2 separate regions of the Homo sapiens genome follow, and region 2 is linked to region 1. Evidence: fine-mapped QTL for protein levels in blood plasma. A gene starts in region 1. The other region holds a variant in brackets. All regions are shown on one strand. Distances are from middle to middle. Region 1 holds the start of BCHE (butyrylcholinesterase). Region 2 has its middle 120 kb from the start of BCHE.

What was found. PIP is the posterior inclusion probability: the model's chance that the variant is causal. The UK Biobank Pharma Proteomics Project read protein levels with antibody pairs (Olink). The fine-mapping took linkage between variants from a reference panel, not from the people measured, so its PIPs are less certain.
Region 2: its variant is fine-mapped to the plasma level of the BCHE protein (UK Biobank, PIP above 0.99).

Annotation. Positions count from the first base shown.
Region 1 is chr3:165,832,695-165,841,217 of GRCh38, reverse strand. It overlaps BCHE (butyrylcholinesterase), which reads left to right and starts at 3,795. Exons shown (of 4, transcript NM_000055.4): 1 at 3,795-3,904. RefSeq lists an enhancer at 3,683-3,977.
Region 2 is chr3:165,714,236-165,722,758 of GRCh38, reverse strand. No RefSeq gene overlaps it. Among named protein-coding and RNA genes, the nearest start is that of BCHE, 120 kb to the left of the region's middle. RefSeq lists enhancers at 1,030-1,530, 1,531-2,031. The variant CTTTCT/T (reference allele first, on the strand shown) is at 3,421.

The DNA.
Region 1 (8,523 bases):
TATATGTACTTTGTCCATGTCGTATTTGGTTATTCCAATTCTGGGAAAATAAATTAAGAAAATAATTAAAAGATGCACTCAAATATCGATATACAAAATGCCTATTGTAATAATACATAAAAAAAGTCAGAAGCTAACCTCGGTATCTGTATGATTTGGAGCAAGTTACTTAAACTCTTTGTGGCTATATTTTCTCAAATGTAAAATAAGGTTAATAATAGTGCTTATTTTAAAGGTAGTCATGAGTTTTAAATGAATTCATGTATTCAAAGTGGATAGAATAGTGCTTTCAAATAATATTTATTACCTAAAATTATTATTATCATCATATAAGTAACAAGAGATACAATGAACCATAATATGCCCATATGATAATATATCACACAGTAATCAAAATATTTTAATAGGAAATTAATATCATAAGATAAAAAGCAAGAAGAATGATGATAAGCCATTTGACTACCACTATATTTATCTATGTAACTATAACCACATACACATATTTTAAAAAATTGATTGGAATATACAAAATGGTCTTTTCATTCTCTGTGATATGTAAAATGTAGAAATATACTTTTCTGGGCTGGATGCAGTAGCTCACACCTATAATCCCAGCACTTTGGGAGGCCGAGGTTGGTGGAGCACCTGAGGTCAGGAATTCGAGACCAGCCTGGCCAACATAGTGAAATCCTGTGTCTACTAAAAATACAAAAATTAGCCAGATTTGGTGGTGGGTGCCTGTAATCCCAGCTACTCAGGAGGCTGAGGCAGGAAAATTGCTTGAACCCAGGAGGCAGAGGTTGCAGTGAGCCGAGATCCTGCCACTGCACTCCAGCCTGGGCGACAGAGTGAGACTCCATCTCAGGAAAAAAAAAAAAAAATCTATCTATCTATCTATCTATCTATCTATCTATCTATCTATCTATCTATCTATACTTATATATACTTTTCTTTGTTATCCATATTCATTTCAGAGAATGCAGTGCTATTGTAAAAAAAATGAATAAAATTAATATAAGTTTAGAGCACTTTTTTGGCATCAGTATGCCTAAGGAAAACTAATGTATAATACAGGATTAATGTTTTTCACACCATCTCAAATCTTACTGAATGCTGCTATCTAGAAAACAGTGGTAACTGAGTTACAATGGGACCTTAAAAGCAAAAAACCACTGTGACTGGCTAACTGAAAGTGATCATAGAGCCAAAACCATAATGATTGTCCTGCCCAAGCTTCAGCATATATGGTTGCAAAATGTGCGCAGTGTTAATGCCGTGTCAAGTGTCTTGTGGTATTTCATCAGTGTCGCTTACAAGGCATACTCAACATTTAACAGCAGGATCATTAACCATCCATGCTGTGATGTAATGGAATAGTGCTTCCCTACTAACCCTGAAACAAGCTCACTGTGTGTGACCTACATCCTTCCGCTGGATGAGTGTGAGAAAATGATGACACCACAGAAGCAAAGCAGCTGCTGTAAGTTGAGCCACAAGGAAGAAACTCTCAAGACAGGAAGAATAAATGCTTTAGAGGTGCACTAAAATAATGAATGAACTAATGTGGCATAGCTGTGAAATCATGCGAGGAAAAGAACTACAGGGACAGTAACAGAAGGTGGTTCTTTGAAGTAAAGACATTGAGAAGAAGAAAAATTGCCAACTTGTGTAATCAGTTGATGTTGCTAGTTAGCCAGTTTAAACATGCGTTAAAGATAAAGATCTGCTTGAAACCAATTATTTTATTGTTTGGCTTCCTGTTTAAAGATGAAAATGAAATATGTGTATATATGTGACATATTTTACCTAGCAGTGAGTAGATGCAGGAAGCATGTAAAATGCTTTGCTGAATTCACTAACGTCACAAAATATTCCTTAATAATTGCCGCGTTTGATAGGCTGACCTTATGCTAGCACAGGAAACAATGCAGTGGACTTGGGTTGGAGAGAAGAATTTTGACATTTGGATTTTTAAAAATCATGTATATTGAACCCATGAACTCTCATGTGGAACATCAGATTTACTATATTTTAAACAGAAATGCCATCACTATAAAAACCATTGCAAATTTGTCAATATACTTCCATTTAAAAAGCCTTTTCCTGCTTTTATTGATTTATTGATTAATTTTTTTTTGAGACAGGATCTCACTCTGTCACCCACGATGAAGTGCAGTGGCACAATCGTGGCTTGCAGCCTCGACCTCCTAGGCTCAGGTGATACTCTTACCTCAGCTACCTCCCAAGTAACTGGGAATGTAGGCTTGCACCACCATGTCTGACCCATTTTCTTGCAGAAATTGAGTTTTGCTATGTTGTCCAGACTTGTCTTGAACTCCCAGACTGAAGCAATCCGCCCACTTAGGCCTCCTAAAATGTTGGGATTACAGTCATGAACCACTGTGCTCCACCTCCTTTTTCTCCTTTTCAGATAGATTATGTATTCTGTACCTTTTGTGTAACTAACTTGTTATTACATAAACTATATTCTAAATACATTATAAATTATTGTGATCATGATATTTATCATTGAATTAACACTGCCTAAGTAGCAATTTTCACAGAAAAGATAATTTTAAAAGACCAAAATGGTTATTCTCTTGGAAGCAGTTGACATAAAATAACAGAATAATACAGATTAAAATTCTGTTTTCCAACAGCTACTAGTGGTAAGAAATATAGTAAGCTTCTGATTTGTAGAAACCTTAGCTTTCTCATCTGATGAGGTGGTTAATAATATTAACTCTCATATTTGCTGAAATAATATAAAATATTTAATATAAATTGTCAATTATAATGACTGGCATAAGGTAGAATTACAACAAATGCTAATTATATTTGCTTGTTTGAAAATTTAACACTCTATTAAAAGGCAAAAAAGTGCTCACCTGCAAATATTAATACATGCCTTCTGTTTAGTCCATAGAAAGCCCACAAGTAAGAGATTCAAAAGTGAAAGCTATCACTTACAGAAGATTAAGAATATATTGCATTGAGAAGATAGGGATTAAGGAGTTTATCAAAGGTTTTTTAAAAAATTATTTTCCTGAACATCATTTCAAGAAAGATAAGCGCCAAAGACATAAATATATTCTCCAGAGCATGTGCACTGCAAGTTGACAAATGTGTCTCTTTTATAGAGTTTGGTGAAGGTTATTCATTTTATTTTTCCTGTCTTGACCAGAAAATTGTGGCTTCTCATCATGTATGACTGCCTGCAGGGTCTTCTGAATAGGAAATTACCAATGCTGAAATTTGTATGACTTAAATAAGTGTTGAAGTGTGGGGGTTGAAAGGAGATACATATCAGAGACATCCATTCAGTTAATAGAACTAAGTTTTTGATTTGCATAGCTTATATCTAGAGCATTGTGTTTCTTATTTTCTATATTACTATCTTCTCTAACTATATAATTAGCACAGATTGAAGCTATAATGGATTTCAATAATAGCACTACTTTAGAATGATGTATACGTCTTTAAATCTTAAGACAAGCATAGGAAATATGTATATTCTTAAAAAAAGGAAAATTTTTTTAAAGTTTAGAGTTAAAAGAAACATGCATTTTCTGTTACATTTCAGATTATTTTAGTTAAAGAATCTTCTATGCTTTTTTTCTTCATTCTTAGAAGACTACCTGCAATTGTAAAGCATGAATCCTGTAATACTTCTGTAAATGAATCACTATTGCATTTATACCATTAGCCTCTGAACAGATTTCAAGTTGCTGCTGCCAACTCTCGCGAGCTTTGTCAGTAACAGTTGATTGTTACATTCAGTAACACTGAATGTCAGTGCAGTCCAATTTACAGGCTGGAGCAGCAGCTGCATCCTGCATTTCCCCGAAGTATTACATGATTTTCACTCCTTGCAAACTTTGCCATCTTTGTTGCAGAGAATCGGGTAAGTTGCTCTGAATTTACACCTTCGTGTAGAGATCCAAGTTACTGTAAAGCTCATTCTGTGGGATGAGAGTGATCTCTTCATGTGTTTGTTGTGTCCCTTTGGTGCTCTGTGGGGAACAGTTACTGAAGCTTGCAAATGGGACAGAGGAAGTGAGCCAGCAGGCACATGCATCAAATCTTCCTATTATTCAGGGAACGCAGACTTTGTTTATTTAACTGCTGAGAAAATAATGAATTTATTCAACTCTGTATAAAGGACCATAGCACGTGTGGAATCACTGTGATATATATTCTTAGTGAGTTTCCTAAGAAAAAACATTTCATACTGGCTTACCCTTAAATGCATTGTTTATTGAATCTCTCTGTAAAAGTAATCTTTGATTAGTCTTCCTTTTTTTTTCTTTTTAAATGGGATAAAGTTAGTAGTTAACTTACTTTTTCCTGAACAAAATACTTTTCTCAATCAACATTTTGTCACCTAAAACTTTAACAGTAACAACTGGCAAATGAGAGGTCTGTTTATTTTATGTAAATAAAAACAAAACCTGTTTTCTAATTTGATTTACAGTGATTTATGAGCGTGTCCCCTTTGCCCTTTGTGTTCACTTTTTATATGTTTGTTTAAATTGTAGCAAAATATTTTACATTTGCTATTATTTTACTATTATAGAAATAGTAAGCAAATGTACTTTCTGCTCATCCTATAATCTTGTAAAACTATTATTTTGATAACATCAGTTCCACTTTAACCAGGGAATTAAATATTAAGGATTATAAAATCTATGAATGACTAAAAGTAAACTGAAATGTGATTTCATTGTTTATGATTTCTATTTATTATATATTTTTATTTTATGAGTATGTCTTCTACATTTTTATGAATATATTTCATGATAATAAACTCAATTAGGAGCTCCTGTCACTAGTCTGTGTAATGCCTTCCTTAATATAAACTATCTCATAGTTACAATAAATACAATGACAGTTTACTTATATAAGTAGTTACTTTGTTTAAGGATAAGCGTGAGCTTTTAAAGTGTGACTTTAACATTTGAATAAAAATCTTCAGAATTTTCTCTGGATATAAAATAAAGTAGTCTTTTGGATGCCAAATAAATTTCTAATTGGGTTATCAAAGTTCTGTTTTGTTCTCCTAATTTTTTGTTGTTGTTGTTTGTTTGTATTGTCCTAGTTTTTTAATTGTAAAAATATGTTTGGGATGTATTCCATATTTCATTTTTATAAAACATAAGCTACTAATAGCTAAACAAGTCACATCTTATCTATAAATTTGGTTCCTTCTTCGAGTCATTTCTTGATAAGTATAATATATATTTACATTGAATATTATCTTCATTTCGATGGTTTCTTGCCAGCATCTGCTCATTCTTACCAAAATTAGACGGTCCCAGATGTTAAGAGAATTGTAATTGAATAGATAGCAACCTAAGAGGAGATTTAATTTTCAGAGAAGACTCAAGAAATCTCTCTAATAAATGTTCAAATTATTCACACAATGAAGTTTGCAAATGTTCTTCCTAATTGAGGACAGATAAAACATCTTAAGTTTCTTATATCTAATGTAGTGTCTTCTATATGTATACATGCCTAAAGCATAGCTGAAGAATCCCTGAAAGACAGTGATGTAGTCTATTTATAATCAGACTTCCTCAATTCCCCACTTCACTTAGTCTGCAACAAAACAAGCTTTTTAAGTTTGATATAAAGACGTCGTTGTTCCAATTTCTTCAAATACATTTAAGAGAGCTTGTTCTAGATCATATTAATATTATCTAGATGGCTCTTTCTCTACCATTTTAAGAGGGTTTATTTCCAAGTAGAAATAAATATTTATTTAATTGTAACTTTTTAAAAGATAGGGAAATTATACACAGGGAAAATATTTTGAATATTTGCTTGAACATCTTTTAAAAATTCTTGGCTTGTCCCTTATTTTGAAAATCTGGTTGATATTCAAGTATCCCAAAAAATAGCTCTTTATACAAATTATTTTATCACACTCACATCTTATAGTATAACATTTAGTATTTTTTGTTAAAATCAGCTAGGGAATATTAATAGTACTTTCAAAATTGAATTAAAAATACAAAAAAAGATTTGTCACCTTTTTTATTTGAAAGTTATTGTTATAACAGTTTAGCATTTTCAAAAATTGCCAGTAAATTTTCTTAATTCCAAACAAAAACTCAGTTCCTCAAAAACTCAAATTCCTCAAAAACTCAATTCCTCAAAAACTAGAATGGTCTGAATTCCAAACAAAAACTCCTGTCTTTATTTCCAATATTAAATACTATTTTGATAAGCAAATTGATCTAAATTCAGATACACAGCTGTATTTGTGAAAATGTGCCCCATTTTTATGATAATGTTTATGCTACTATGTTCTCTCAGAATCATGTGAGACAGTATCCAATTGCACCAGAATTTATTAAAAGAAAAACGATCAAACCTGCACGTTGTGCACATGTACCCTAAAACTTAAAGTATAATAATAATAAAATTAAAAAAAAGAAAAACGATAATGTTTTGTTGAATATCCTAATCATTAATAAAAATTTTGAGATATAGACTCAATATTTTTATTCTATTTTCATTTATTTCTCTTTCGATTGCTCAATTACATGATAAACATATCAAAATTTTTAAAGTCTTTTAATGGCAAAACTACAGAGTAGCATGTTAGAATAGATAATACCAGATTATAAAAAGGGCAAAGTGATGCTTATTTAAAAAATAAAGTACTGCAATTAAATATAAAAACATTAGCCTACAATACACTAACAGTATATGAACATCTGCATATTTTTATATTAAAGTACACATTAAATAATATGTCATATGACACTCTGCAACAATACATATGAGTTAGCATTATATTGTCATTTTTGCAATGAATGCATGCTTACAAGAATTGCTTTGATTGTTACCAATTACATTATTTGCAAGTTGATAACTCAGATATCATTATCGAAAAATTAAAGATTTTAATTCATACCATATTATTATATAACAAGACCTACTCAGCATAAAATATAAATATCAACATATAATAAATTTTGTATTAAATCAAGTTAAGTGACATGGGAAGATATTACAACCATTTAGATGTTATAGCAACTGTTTAACATAAACAATGAAACATCACATTTCATAATTACACAAAACACAAATACAGTTTTGTAGCAACTATAGTACTTGCTTTGCAATAATATAAACTGTTTGTAGAACAAGTTTGAAAACTATCAGAGACCAAAATTTATTTCAATTTGGTGTTTGGTTTCTAAAGACAAACTAATATTCAAATAAAATCAAGGAAAAAATAGATGGCTTTTGCATTAGACTTAGAAGAACATTGACTGAGCTAGGCAAGAGGGAGAATGGGTACAACCAGGGATGATGCAATTAATTTATTAAATTGCAGCTTAGAACGAACCGCCCAATCAGCTTTGCACCTTATTCACTTTTTCTTCCCAGAGGATGTTTTCAAAACAGAAAATAAAAAAAATCATACTAGCACTTTGTTTTTCTCCAGATGCTCTCCTGCATTTATTAAAGAGAAAAGGATTAGCGGTTATCAGAAAGAAAAAAGAACTGAAGCAGTAGAGTGCCTCTAAAACTTTGATTATGTCTGAAATGTTATTAGTGTCAGGTAACAGGAAACTTTAAGTCATTGTTATATTTTACTTATTTATTTACTGTGATTTATGATACAGTCATACAATACATAATGATGCTTCAATCAATAATGGTGGTCTTATACAATTATAATATAGTATTTTCACTGTACCTTTTCTCTGTTTACATACACATACAGTTACCATTTTCTAACAATTGCCTACAGTATTCAGGAACATGTTATACAGATTTGTAGCCTAGATGCAACAGCCTATACCATATAGCCTAAAGGTGTGGTAGGCTATGGCATCTAAGTTTGCGTGAGTACACTTATAATGTGTGCACAATGATTAGATCGCCTAACAATGCATTTCTTAGAATGTATCCCTGTCAATAAATGGCATATGACAAGGATACATTATATAATAGTACCTAAATTATATATAATAGTACCTAAATATCATGAATGTAGAAATGCTGCTAAAAATATATTTTAATTATGTTTTATTGATCTTAGCACACATCTAATTGTACCAAACAGAACTGAAAAAATAATAATCTTGTGGCTTGATTTTTTTAAAACCTTATTATTATAGCAGTCATTTTATATGTAAATATATATGCATATACATATGAATATTGTTAGAATTAGATATAGAAATAGATATATCCATTAAGTATCAAGCCCTGAACCAAATGCTCCAGACCATGGATTAATAAATTGAGATATTTATTGGGATAAAAAATACTTGTAGGTCACTAGATATCCTATGACCATTGGTGAATTAGGCTGATTTGAAATATGATACCCTACGTCTGGGACATAGGCATTAGAATAGTTATTTATTCTCTTTCTTTGAGAAAATCTAAATTAAATAAACAAAGACAAAACTAATACAAATGCTTAGTATTTGTAGGATTCGTTTATTGGTTGTGTAGGTTGGATTTCAGCAACCTAATTACAGCATGAGAAAAAATAAA
Region 2 (8,523 bases), 120 kb after region 1:
CATCTATTCCAAGCTACTACCAATTTCCTGTTGTCTCTTACTTGAGTACTACTACCACTTTCACCCCAGGAGTAAGAAATGTTTCATAATTCAAGGAATATCACTTTTACCATACATATCCAAAATGAAACTCCTACACGCTTCAAGCAATCCTGATTCTTTTTAATTGGTACTTAGCTCTAAATAACATTAGCTTATATCCACTTTCTCAAAATAGAATACTATATATCATTTTTAACACATCATATTCTCTCATCTTCCATATCCATCAGCAAATTCTTGTGATACTACCTTTTACAGATCTCTAGGATCCACCCTCTTTAATTCCACATTCTCCTCCCTAGAGCAAGCAATGTCAATCATCTATGGGGGCAACGGCAGGGCACATCTACTAACTTGTCCCTCTTTATCAACTCTTGTCCATTTCTACCATGGCAATTGGTTAAAAAAGATTCTAATTAGCCCAAGATCCTTACTTAAAATGCTTAAGTTTTTAATAAAAGAATTTAATAAAATCCGGCATTATTCTATATTACTATTAGTTTATGTGTTCTACCACACTGGTCTTCTTTCAGTCACACAAGTTAACTTCAGCCTTTACCACTGGACCTTTTAAATGTTCCTTCCTCTGTCTTAGATTCATTTTCTCTTCATTTATCTGTTTATTTTCTATTTCTTTGTATCAAAGTTTAATTTCTTCAGGAAATCTTCCCTGATCCTAGTATGTCTTTCCCTTATCTCATGGCACTGTGAGACTTATTTTCACAGATCTTACTCTGCTGTAATGTTATGTTTGTGATTATTTTATTCATGTCTGCCTCAACCGTTAAAGAGCTGTAAGTTCCACAAAAACAGAGATAGTTTTATATATTGAGTCTTGAAAACAGAAAGTTCTTAAAAGAATATTTGCTGATTATTGGATTGACTGATATTGGTGGTAGAAGGTCCTTTATTCCACTCAGATTTCTTCTTTCTACATCCATCTTCTGGGATTATAGCATATTACTTCTTTAATAATTTTGCTTTTGGTTTGAGATTTTTTTTGAAAAACACCACCTTCAGTCCTTAGTAACCTGTAAGTACTTCCTTCACTTAACTCTTTATCAGCAATATCTGTATATGCAGCATACAGCACAGCTTCATTTGTTAGATGTCAATAATATTTTGTTGACCAAATGAATCAATTAATGCATGAAAGTGAAGTTAATGGTAAGTAAAATCACGGAAGTCTTACATGGTGAATATAATTTACTGGGAGGAGCCTACATTGAGGATTTATCCAAAAGTGTAATTGACTGGCAGCAGCAGCCCACCTGGATCAACTGCTGCAAAGATGCCGGCTGCAGCAGGGGAGGCACAGCTGGCAGCATGCTCCATGGATCTGGCAGGAGTCAGAAACAGGTGGAATCTCTGCTCCCTTCCTAGTTGGTGGGGCAGGAGCCCTTCCCTCCCGGGTGCAGCTGCAGCTGCCCAGTTGCCCTGGTGGACCTGGACATCCTTGGGCTCTTGAAGACTGTGAAGCCCCCTTCACTCACGGGCTTGGAAGTGCCTGCTCCCCACGCCTGGCCTCTCCCCACCCCCAGTGCCTACTCTGATTTTGGAGCCAAGTTGAGGCCAAGCGTGGGTGCTGTTGCAACCTGGCAAGGTGTGCTTGCACTTGGGGCAGTGCTGAAATGCCAGCCCCCTCCCACCTCAGCCCCCTCTGGACTTTGATCACCAATGAACATGGGAGGAAGGCCAAGGGGGCCCTGAGGGAAGCTCAGTGTAGGCCTGAATGCACCCCTCAGCACAAACAGCCTGGGTGCCTGGACAACATGATTAATGATGACAGGAGGCAGACAAGAAAAGGGGCAGGTCCCCGGTAAAGCCAGACCTTCAAGCCAGGGATGGCTTGAAATCTGGGGTCCAGGCTGTCAGTTCCAGGTGGAGTCCATGGCTCAGAGTGAGAACTTACGGTGCTTTTTCCAGGCTTGCCCATGGCCACCCATGGACTAATCAGCATGCACTTCCTCCCTTCTGAAGCCCATAAAAACCCTGGAATCAGCTACACTCACAGAGACGTTAGGACTACCAGCTGTGGGAAGGAGCTATCAACTGCAGCAGGTCTTCTCTCTGCTGAGAACTGGACACTCGTTAGGATGACCTGCCTAAGGAAAGGAGCTACTCACTACAAGTCTCCTCTCTGCTGAGAACTGGACACTTATCTGGACGACCTGCCTATGGAAAGGAGTCAGCTACTTCAGGTATCCTAAGAGCTGTTCTGTTGCTCAATGAAGCTCCTCTACTGCCTTGCTTCCCCTCCAGTTGTTCACAGACCTCATTCTTCCTGGACACGGGACAAGAATTTGGGACTTGCTGAATAGCAGGACTGAAAGAGTTGTAACACAAACGGGGCTGAAACATGCCCCACCTCACCATGTTACAGGTGTCAAGAAGGAGAGAAGAACTGCAGCTTTTGGGGATCCTAGACCTAGGGTCTTCCCTAGCCAGGGCTGCAACACCCTCTTTGAGGCTCTGTGGTTCCTGGCATTTCCAAGCTTCTGGGTACCACTGTGTTTCCCGGTGCTAGAAGTGGAAGCCAATTGTGGTACTCGTGGTCCAGCCACAGCCTTGCATGGAGCAGGGGCCTGGAGCTGCCTGCCCTGCTACAGCCAGCATGCCTGGCTGTGTGCAGTGACCAGACCCCACCCTTGCTCACACATCCCTAACTGCTTCACTCCTGGCTCACCCTTGGCAGGCAAGGGATCCGGTCCGGTAGCGTAAACTGAGTGCAGCCTACTGGGCCAAGTGGGTGGAACAAGCCCAGAGGGCCTGAGCAACACTCAAGCAGAAGGCACCACTGGCTACCAAGGTTTCTTGTTGGCAAAGTGACACCCCAAGGATCCCCTGACATTTTTGGAGGTGCTTTTCTGGGATCTTCAGGAGAGTGAGTAAAAGAGGACTTGCTGCTTTCCATCCTTTTTTTTTTTTTTTGGAGTCAATAAACTACACACTAGCCAGAATGAAAGAAAAACATGGGCCTCTGTTCAGCCAACTAAAAGCAACAAGTGTGGTTGCTGGACTTAAGACACAGAGGACAGGCTTGCTGGGGGTACACTGTCAATCACTTGTCACTCTTGGGTCTTGGGAATGTTGGCCTTTTGCCAATCCGGTTTCCCTTCACAAAAATTTAGCTGTCACTTGAGACTGGAAGGAGGTCCTGGGGCAACTGCAGATATCTGACTGAGGCTACACCTTAGTGTTATCCAAAGGCCCCTGGACTAACTCCCATCCCCAACTGCCCATTAGGGTGTCAGCACTAGGGCCCTCAGTCTTTCCTATCACACTTTTTGTCTCATTCTCTCTTTCTTTCTCTCTCTCTTTCTTTCTCTCCCTTCCTTCCTTCCTTCCTGCCTGCCTTTCTTTCTTTCCTTTCCTTTC[CTTTCT/T]TTCTTCTCTGACTATAATGGCTACTATTCTCTTTTTTATATACAATGTTAAGGGTACCTCAGAGAAAATATTACTGGCTAGAATAAGCACTTGGAAGCCCGCCATGGTGGCTCACACCTGTAATCTCAGAACTTTGGGAGGCCGAGGTGGGCAGATCACCTGAGGTTAGGAGTTCGAGACCAGTCTGGCCAACATGGTGAAACCCCATGTCTACTAAAAATACAAAAAATGAGCAGGGAATGGTGGCAGGCACCTGCAGTCCCAGCTATTTGGGAGGCTGATGCACAAGAATCGCTTGAACCTGGGAGGTGGAGGTTGCAGTGAGCCAAGATAGCACAACTGCACTCCAGCCTGGGCAATAGAGTGAGACTCCATCTCAAAAAAAAAAAAAAAAAAAAGAAAACAAAAAAGACAGAAAGAAAAAAGAAAAAATAATAAGCGCTTGGCTTAGTGATCAGGAATGTAAATCAGAAGAATGTAATGTGGTATCTGTCTATTGTTAGAAGCAAGGAGAATGTAACAACTGAGACTTTTCTTTCCCCTGTTGAAGGAAGCCATTTCCATAGGGAAAGAGGCTTTCCCCTGGGCACCTTCCCCTTCCCTGCACTTCAGTTTTTTCTTTTTTATTTTTTTTTTCTTTTTCCTCCACCATGTAAGCAGTCAACATAGTGCATTGGGGGAGCTTTTCTACGCAAGAGATTTTTTTTTTTTTCCTTTTGAGAGACATCTTATTAGGCCCAGTCCTAAATTCCCAGGACTCCCTTTCTTTCCTTGGTTTGAAGGGGACCTCGTTTCACAGTTTTACTTTAGCATTCTGCTTATGATAGGGAAGAAATGAAAGAGTGGCCTCGGCTGCCCCACCAATTACTGGCTGCAATTTGGTAAGGGCTACCTGGGACTTAATTTAATGAGTCCGTACAAAGGGAAAGCTAAACCTGAGGTATCCAGAGGCAGATGAAAGTGCAAGTCAGGAGGCACAGTGCAGGTGAGCATGACTAATTCCTACCATTAGGGCCTTCCACTTCTGGATGGAGGTCATGTTGCATCCATGGCATAGATAAGGTCTAGGGAACTCAAAGGTGACTGACAATGGGAGAATAGGGCAGCATAAAGGTAAGTGCAAATATTCTTATCCACTAGGCCTCCCTGCTACATGGGTGAAAGTGGCATGTGCAAAGGTTGCCGGGACTTAGGGATATAATGTCAAAATAAAGAAGGTGATGTCTTTTTTTTCTCTCCCTCATGTACCCTGTGTATTGGCTTGAAAGAGAAAGGAACAAATGGAAACCATTTCCCCCCTCTTTCCAGATGGGTAATCAACCATTTCAGCCTGCACTCTTTTCGAGTGCTTCCTGAATCCCTGGGACCCCCTTGACCCTCAGACTCTGGAGAGAGGAAAGAATGCCTTTTCCCCCTCTGTCCTCTCTTCCAGAAGGGGAACCAATCATCTTTAGCCTGCACTCTTCTCAAGTGCATCCCGAATCTCTGGAACTCCTTTGACCCTCAGACTCTGGAAAAAGAAAAAAAAAAAGGTTTTTTCTTCCTTTTTTCCTCTTCTGTCTTCTCTTTGAGGATGGGTAATTGCATCTCTACACCACAGGACACTCCCCTCAGATGCATTCCCCAAACTGAGAAGATATTACAAATCTAACTGAGCAATCTCTTGAAGAGGGACAACTTTTACAGTAAGGCTTATCAGTTTTACCTGTGAGGTTAATTTTGTTAAGGCTCAAAAGCCAGCCATATTGGCCATTTGGCATGGCTAAGGCTGGTTAATAAGACATTTAAGAGGACTTTTTAAAAAAGGATTTCTGGCCGGGTGCGGTGGCTCACGCCTATAATTCCAGCACTTTGGGAGGACAAGGTGGGTGGATCACGACGTCAGTTCAAGAGCAGCCTGGCCAAGATGGTGAAACCCCATCTTTACTAAAAATACAAAAATTAGTTGAGCATGGTGGTGGGTGCTTGTAATCTTAGCTACTCAGGAGGCTGAGGCAGAGAACTGCTTAAACTTGGAAGGCGGAGGTTGTAATGAGCTGAGATCATGCCACTGCACTACAGCCTGGGCAACAGAAAAGGACTCCATCTCAAATAAATAAATAAAAAGGATTTATATGGTTAAAAGTCAGCTTAACTAAAAGTGGATATCCAAGCTACAGGCATATCAGGCATATATAAAAGACCTTTATGTCTTTTCTCTCAATGGATCTAGTTTTTCTGGAAAAAGGATTTTTTTTTCCTTTTTAGCCAACTTAATTATTTTTCTCCATTTCATCTTGCCACTCCTAATGCACACATAAGAGGCCCTAAGACAACTTTTGATGGTTTGGAACTCCTTGGGAAGAACAGAAGAGATGCCACTGACCCCATTTTTGTAAAAAAAGAAAAACAAAAACAAAAACAAACAAACAAACAAAAACCTGTTTTTCTCATGGAACCCCAGGAATTAGAGGCAGATAGATCTCAAAATCTGTTTTTGTCTTCCAACTATGCCTGCTTATTAGGCCCTAGATACTGCATGGTTTCATAGCCCTGTTTCTTAAAGGGCTCCACCCTGAGGCCAGTAAATAAAATTAGATGGGCAAATGAAAATCTAACAACTACTGGATCTTCTTTCTCTGTAGTTATGTATGTGTTCTATGTGTGGTGCTTATATAAAAAAAAAGAGCTTTAATTGACTGGTTTAAGGAAAAAATAAGCATTTGCATAAAATATTTTTAAAGAAAAATAAAGCTGTAATGCCTTTTTGTTCACATGACTTTAATCTTTGAGAAATAAAAACAGCTTTAAAGATTATTGGTAAAATAAAAATGTCTTCAAAGTGTAGACATATGGGCTAGTTGCAGTGGCTCACTCCTGTAATGCCAGCACTTTGGGAGGCCGAGGCGGGCAGATCACGAGGTCAGGAGACTGAGACCATCCTGGCTAACACGGTGAAACCCCGTCTCTACTAATATGCAAAAAAAAAAAAAAAAAAAAAAAAAAAAGTAGCCGGGCGTGGTTGTGGGTGCCTGTAGTCCCAGCTACTTAGGAGGCTGAAGCAGGAGAATGGTGTGAACCTGGGAGGTGGAGCTTGCAGTGAGCCAAGATCATGCCACTGCACTCCAGCCTGGGCAACAGAGTGAGACTCTGCCTCAAAAAAAAAAAAAAAAAAAAAGTAGACATATGGTCTACATTATGCAGGTCAGATACTAGGGTTGCTAAAGGCTTTAAGGTCATGAAATGCTTCTTCGGCTTTTGAAAATTGTTTGACTTGCCTTCTTTTCAGCTTGGTAAGGCCTGGGGACATATGAAGTTAACCACACCCCGACTATGTTGGAAAGAGTTAGGCCTTATCTGCACCTAGTACATAATTAAAATAACTTATCATGTTTTACACCAAAATTTAAAAAATTGCTAAGAGTTACCATTTAACATGTATTGAGACTACTGAAAATAGATTTACATGCAAGGTGTTTAAGGTAAGTAAAATGTGTTTTTAATAAAAGATTATAGGAAGACATGTAAATTTTTTCTTACTGTAGAGGGTTAAATAATTATTTTTAATTAAGATAAAGCTAAAGGTTTAAATGAGTTGGGAAGGTTTGTAAAACTTAATATTGTAAAATAAAATCTGTGTGTGAACATACTGACTAAATTCAAAAGGGTATTATTCGATTTTTCCATAAATTGAGCATTGGAATAAAAGCACAAGTGTTTCTTAAGGCACTGATATACTCTTTAACAAAAATTAGTTAAGAGTTATAAAAGGTTTGTAAGAATCTCACCTCATGGTCAAACTGATTAAAATTGGATAGATTTTTCTATAAGTTTTCATTAAAAAATTGGGATTGACATTAAAAGACAAATAAAGGGTGAAATTTGTCTATCTCTCTTGAACAAGATTTTCATGTAATGTTAAGGATATTGAAAAATTTTAGTTTGTTTTGTGAATAAACTACTGAAAAAAGAAGGAAAAGACAAGAGACAGATCGTTTGGAAAGCTGAGTCTGCCCTAGTAATGAGTAAAGGTTTTTGCTTTTCCAAAAAAATGTTGAAGCGGCTGGGCACGGTGGCTCACGCCTGTAATCCCAGCTTTGGGAGGCCTAGGTGGGCGGATCACAAGGTCAGAAGATCAAGACCATCCTGGCTAACACGGTGAAACCCTGTCTCTACTAAAAAATACAAAAAATTAACCGGGCGTAGTGGCAGGTGCCTGTAGTCCCAGCTACTTGGGAAGCTGAAGCACGAGAATGGCGTGAACCTGGGAGGCGGAGCTTGCAGTGAGACGGATCGCGCAACTGCATTCCAGCCTGGGCCACAGAGCAAGACTCCGTCTCAAAAAAAAAAAAAAAAAAAAAAAATGTTGAATCATCATTTTGGCTAAATAAATTACTTATGGTAATCTGGAATTCTTTTTATAATATCAAGTGTTTTAAACCTTTAATGTATTTGATAGGCTTCCCCAAATCAAATTTCAGCTTCATAATTATCTTTTCTGACCCCTAATTTTGGGATGCTACAGAGGGCCCCTGGAGCATTCAAACAAGAGGTAAATAGGATTATTTGACATGTTTAGTTACATGGGATTTTCCAAATAAAAATAAGGTTTAATCTTGTTTAAGTTATATTTTAGTAAACGATAATGTATGTTCCAAAATTGTATGGGATTTCTAAAATTCAAATGTCTGAGTATATGCTAGCAATCATAAATAGCATTATTATGTTAAGTTACCGTAAGCCACAGAAATAACCAAATTTCCTTGTCAATTGTGTTTTTGACTGTGAACTAACCTAAGACATTTTGTCATCCACAGGCAATTGTTGTCTTGTATTTATTCTCTTCAAAGGATAGTTTATAATCAGTTATAGGACTTGGATAGGTTCTCATTGGTTGTTTTGAAGTTTTTCTCTGCATTTTAGATTAACCCTGCTTATTCCTGTGAACTAGCCAACTATCTCTGACTGCAGCTCAGACCAAAAAAAAGGGATAGGTAAAGTAAAAATCTGGATGAACATTCTAATTCTGGGCAATTATCCTGTAAATCCTGCCAAGAGATGGGGGGTAAATGGGGTGCCGATAACCCAAAGGTTTCTTTTTCGGGAAAGTAAACTCAA